Linked DNA regions of Homo sapiens: region 1 is linked to region 2. A link means that fine-mapping ties the variant in region 2 to the plasma level of a protein whose gene starts in the linked region. Region 2 holds a variant in brackets. A gene starts in the other region. All regions are shown on their forward strands.

Region 1 (2,915 bases), not on the chromosome of region 2:
CATAACAAAAAAACTTCAATGAATATGCTATGTGGAATTTTGTGCACATATGTGTGAGTTCCTTTAGCATATAGACCTAGAAGTGAAGTTTCTATCTTATGAACTGTGCACATTTCAACTTCATTAGATAGCATCAAATTGATGTCCTACTAGATTTCCTATTTTCTTACCTTCTTGTTGACACTTGATATTGTCAGTCTTCTTAATTTATGCCAATCTTAGCTTGAGGTGGTATTTTACTGCTATTTGAACCTATAATTTTTCTGATTACTTACGAGGCTAAAAATCTTTTTACATATTTATTGGCCATCTGGGTCTTTTGTGAATTTGCTACTCATATTTTTTGTTCATTTTTTCCTTAGATAATCTCCTGTTCTTTTTATTGATTTGTAGAAATTCTTTACATATCCTGAATACTTATTCTTATTCAATTATATGCAGTATACATATCATCTCTCACCTGTGGCTTGTCTTTTAATCATGTTATGTTTTTGTCATAAAGAAGTTTAAATTTTGATACAGTCAAATGTATTATTCTTTTCCTCTGTAATTTCTATGTTTTTTTCATGTTTAAGCAATCTTTCTTGACCTAAAGGTTAAAAATATGTTCCTATATTTTCTTTTTTGAAGTTTATATTTTCATATTTAAATTTTTAATCTATCTAGAATTTATTTTTGTCAATGGTATCAGGTGTACATTTAATGTATTTCCTCATATGGAAATGCAATTATTCCCACATTATTATGAAAGAGACCCAAGTTTCCCTCTTGCCTTTTTGGTTCCTCTTATACATAAAAGCCCTGCATATGCTTGCATCTATTTGGATATTACCTATTCCAGTCTATAGATTCATTTTATCTTTATTTTTGGAACTATTACACTCTAATTACTGTAACTTTACCAAAGCTCCTGATATTCTTTTGAGGCAATTCTTTTCTCTTTATTCAGCCTTTTCAGAATTTTCTTATCTATTCTTCAATGTTTACTCTTTCATGCGAATTGAACCATTTGTCAGCTTGGCAAGTTCCACTGAAAACCCTGTTAGATTTTTTACTAGAATGACAATGAATTTATAGATTAATATTAAAACAATCTATTAATATTTCATACATATGTACATATAGAGAGAGAGTCAGGTATTTTTATGTCCTTCAATAATTGCTTTATAACATTTCCATAAAATTTGAATTTATATTTTATTAGAATTAAATAATAATAATTTTATAAATTATTTTTATTTTTATTGTTAAGGGGATCGTCTATCCTGTTTTATGATATGAATGGCTATGGCTGCCCTATAGGAATGTTATTAGTTCTTATATGCTCATTTCCGTATTAATTTTTCAAACTTTTCCCCAGTCTTTGGAGCTTAAGCATTTAAGGTAAACTTAGTGTTTGTCCTCGAAAGAGTCAATGATGTTATCTTTGACAACCTTTATTGGCACTACGGTACATATGGAAGGGTCAAAGTTTCTAATACGACCGTCAGGGTAAAGTCTAAACGGTATTTATGACAAGGTGTGTGCTAAAATCAGCTCACTTGCAGCAATGGCTTGGATTAGATCCACTTGCATTCTCTTTTTTACCTTGCTTTTTGCCCACATAGCAGCTGTACCGGTAAGTCGAGTCCTGCTTTTTGGATATTTAGAAATATTAATTCTAGTATACATTATCCATTTTCTGTATATTTATTTTTTTCAGATTAAGTATCTTCCTGAAGAAAATGGTAAGAATTAGTTCAAATGCACAGAGAGTGTTTTTGAACTTTTTTCCTTCGGCAAGACTAATAATAATTTTTTTTCTCACTTTTAACAGTACATGATGCAGATTTTGGTGAACAGAAGGATATTTCAGAAATCAATTTAGGTGAGTTCAATTTTTGTGTTATTAAAGTCTTGAAATTACTTGAAACCCAGTGGTGGGATTACTGAACACTTTCCTTCCTAATACTGTATTGTGATTCTCTGGGGGAGAAATATTTTTTGGTGCTTTGTGAGAAATTGCATTTTCTGAAAGATAAAAATGCGGAAAGAGAAGATAGTTAGACCAGACTTTCTAGGAGAGCTAGGAAGTCCTCAATGGATCTAGAAATATGTAACAAGTTTCTCTTTATAAAAATTTTATTTTTCCAATTTGTATTTGGAGGAAAAGGAAAGCAAATAGATAATTATTCCGATTGTTAAAGAAAAATATAAGAATAAGCCTCTGGTTATATTTAGTGGGGAAACAAAACCCAACCCCTCCACTGGCCCATCATATTCACTAACAACTCCTCGGTTGAGACTTAGGGGTGAGTGTAAAGCAATCTCCACTTAGACATCTCATTTACAAATATATTTCTTGAAGAAATTCATCAGTCTCATCCATTACTGAGAGGAGAGAGAAGCTGAGTCATCATCTCTGTTTTCTCTCTGTTGTCCTGCTTCTGAAATGAGAGAGAAGCCTCTGCATTCCCAGTGTCTTAGGTCAGGATTTGTGGAAGCAGAGCTATTCATGATAATAAGTACCTTCAGTTTACAAAAGCTTTTATATGCAATTGCATATTTATTTGTCCAGTCTTGTCGTGGAGTAAGTGCTGTTTTCATTTTTTTGGGAAGCGACAGGTGGCTTCTCATGGGTAGAGTGACTTGCTCAAGATCATAGGTAGCAGTGATGGGGCTTACTTCCAGATCTTGTAGCCCATACCTTAATAGCTCAGTGCTATCTGAAGGCTACAAAACTAACATACCAATAACTAAGGGTCAATTTTTCTGGCTTTGTCTCACTCACAGAGAAGCCAGTTAGTTGATATTTAATTGGAATAGCTGGAGAATGGCTGCATAGGCAGAGCAGAAATAGTTTAGGAAGGTAAATGGGTGAATGCATAAATGGGTCCCAAGACTTCAGAGCCAGGCACTAAAATATCTCTCTTTAG
Region 2 (2,915 bases):
GAGTTAAAAGTTATAAGCAGATTTTTGACTGCATGAGGCACTCCTAACCCCTGTATTATTCAAGGATCAACTGTATTTTATTTTATTGAGACAGGGTCTCACTGTTACCCAGGCTGGAGTACAATGGCAATCAGAGCTCACTGTAGCCTTGACCACCTGGGCTCAAGCGATCCTCCCACCTCGGCCTCCTGAGTAGCTAAGACCACAGGTATGCGCCACCATGCCTGGCTAATTTTAAAAATTTTTTTTTGTCGAGATGGGGTTTTGCCACGTTGCCCAGGCTGGTTTTGAACTCCTTGTTTCAAATGATCCTCCTGCCTCGGCCTCCCTATGTGCTGGGATTACAAGCATGAGCCACCCACCCAGCTGGTCAACTATATTTTAAATAGAAGCTCTAATCCTTGCTTCTCATACCTTCTGCAGGGCCTGTACCCTTCTTGGAAATCCCTGCCAGGGATCTTAAGCTTCAGTGTGCTTAAGAATCCTCTAAGCGTGCAGTTTCCTGAAACAACCTGCAGAGAGCCTGACTCAGTGGCCCTGGGATAGGGCCCAGGAATCTGCATTTTAAACCAGGGCCTCAGGCAGGGCCTGCCCTTTGAAGTTCACTAGGCCTCCTGGCTCCTGCTGTTATGGCAGGTGGAGAAGAGGCTACAATTTAGCTGTTGCTTTTCTGATTCTGAAGCCTCTGCTGAGGAAGGGGCCGGGGGAGGTGTGCGGTTTTTTGACTTTTTAAAGGGCTTTTTTTCTAGCTCTGCCACAGAGCAGCCTGCCCAATCACAGAGCCCTCTGGGTGCACAAAGAGGAACATCCTGTCTTCTGGGATGACTCAGTCGTGGCAGAAATCTCACTGTAACCAGGGGAAGGTGCACGTCAGAGGCAGCTGCAGTGACTGACTAGAGTTTCGCACTTGCCCCCAGGCGCCTAAACCAGTGAGCCTTTCCTGAGCCAGGCCTCTGCCTTCCATGCGAGCCATGGCCCTCCTCACCACAAAGCCCCAGAACTGGCCAGTCAGCTAGTCAGTCAACAAACACACGTTAGTGCCAACTACCTGCCAACCTCAGGCTGGGACGATGCTGTGATAGAGAAGCAGGCTGGGCATCAGGAGACAGGTGCTAGTCCTGGCTGCTGTTACTCACTGTGTATAGCTGGGCTTGCATTTTCCTCACTGTAAAATAGAGAAAGTACCACCTGCTCTTGATATCGCAAGGGGATATCACCCTGCTAGGGTGGGTTGGGAGGCAGGGTATGGGACTCAAAGAGCTTTGAAGTCCCTGATTGACTCAGCTTCTAAGGGCAACAGCCTCAGAACTGTTAACCTCTCTCCTCCTCCCTGAGGTCACATTTCAAAGTACAAAGATACATACT[G/T]AGCACCCAGTGGGCGCAAATTAACTTTTTAAAAAAGCCCTATGACTTCCTACTATATACCAGGCGCTACGTAAGATGCAAAGAATATAGAAAAGAGTAAAAGTGTTCCAAGATTTTAAACGGTGGGGGGTAGTACAATACAGAAGTGTTACCAAAGGAAGCTTTAAGGTGGGCTTGAGAAACAATGAGGATTTGGGGGAGAAGACTGGGGAGGGCATTCCAGGCAGCGGGAACAGCACGGAGGCAAAGGCACGTAGGTCTGAAAGTATGGCCTGACCTTGAAGGAGAGCTATGGGCAGGTGTCCCTGCATGCCAGATAAAGGCAGAGTTGTTCCAGCCAGCCCTCGTTAGGGCAGCAGGGCTGCTCCTAAAAGGCAGTGAGTGGGGTTTGGTGAAGACTCCAGCAGTGTGAGCTGGGGAGGGCTATGGAGTTCAGGGTCCCCGCCATCCCTGGAGAAACTGGCCCCACAAGGAAGTAGCAGCCACTGCACCCTCCTTCTGCACATCTCCTTCTTACACCCAAGCCGCCACTGCCCCTGCTCTCTCAAGGGTCTAACAGACCCCTGAGGTGTCTATCTTCAGTTCCTGGGTGGGATGGACTCTTCTTCCCCACCACCCACACAGGGCTTCTCCGCCCGCTCAGTCATTCCACAGCCAGGGACCCTTCCCTTTATGGCTCAATCCCTCAGAACTGCCCAGACGCCCAGGCTCTCCTTTGCCAGCACAGCTACGCAGCCCGCACAGCCTCCCCGTGCCCTCTGCAGCCCCTTCCCATCCAGCCAGAGCTGTCCAGGGTGCCACCCTGCTTCTACCCCCACCCACACCCTGACACCTCCCAGATGAAGACACTGAGGCACAGAGACATGGCCTGCTCTCACAAGACCTCACAGCCAGGAAGCGCAGACAGAGGATTCAAAGCTGGGGTACCGCAACTCTGAAACCAAGGCTGTCAGATGTGTCAGGGAGATGGGGAAGGAAGACCACCCCCCAAATCAGTAACCAGACCTTCCAAAAAGGCTCAACCATACCCCCACCCACCTGCTGGCAGGGCACAGACTTGCTGTTCTCAAGGGGTTCCCACCAGCTGTGTGGACTCTAGTCCCACAAGGAAGCACCAGCCACTCCCTCTCTGTGTCCTCCCTGCCCCCAGCCCGCTCCAGCAGCAGAGGCCGAGGAGAAAGAGAAACGGTGCCCTGGCTGTTGCCAGCTCTGGTCTTGCCATCCTCAAGAGCTGAGCTGGGTCTGCTGGTCCTCGGACTGTCCTTGGCTCCTCTCCTTGCTCTTACGCAGCTGGCATAAGGGGCCACTCCTTCAATAGGGACCACCCCCCGGCGCCGTCGCTGCCTCCTGGCCTGCTGCCCATGCCTGCATCGTCTCTGAGACCCCTTAGCAACCAAGGACACTAACTCTCCAGGTGCAGACGACGACACCCCAGGCACAGAGATGGACCCGCCTACCCAAGTTCACAAGAGATCAGAATCAGAGCTAGGACTGGAATCTAGCATCCTGAGGCTTGACGAAATCCTCCTTAAATCCACCCTTGCCCTGGA

Direction of the effects. Positions count from the first base shown, and alleles are read on the strand shown. Strength reflects both the effect of a copy and how common the allele is.
With allele T in place of G in region 2, the plasma level of the protein whose gene starts at base 1,540 in region 1 is lower (moderate association).

The links. PIP is the posterior inclusion probability: the model's chance that the variant is causal. Protein levels are from antibody-based Olink assays in UK Biobank. Linkage for the fine-mapping came from a reference panel and not from the study's own genotypes, which makes the PIPs less certain.
Region 1: MEP1A starts here. The variant in region 2 is fine-mapped to the plasma level of the MEP1A protein (UK Biobank, PIP above 0.99).

The regions. Positions count from the first base shown.
Region 1 is chr6:46,791,850-46,794,764 of GRCh38, forward strand. MEP1A (meprin A subunit alpha) reads left to right here and starts at 1,540. Exons shown (of 14, transcript NM_005588.3): 1 at 1,540-1,618; 2 at 1,703-1,727; 3 at 1,817-1,867. The coding sequence starts at 1,550.
Region 2 is chr9:114,384,785-114,387,699 of GRCh38, forward strand. The region is part of intron 1 of AKNA (AT-hook transcription factor); the gene reads right to left. Among named protein-coding and RNA genes, the nearest start is that of AKNA, 1.7 kb to the right of the region's middle. RefSeq lists enhancers at 771-840, 861-910, 1,031-1,090, 1,861-2,010, 2,825-2,915. The variant G/T (reference allele first, on the strand shown) is at 1,366.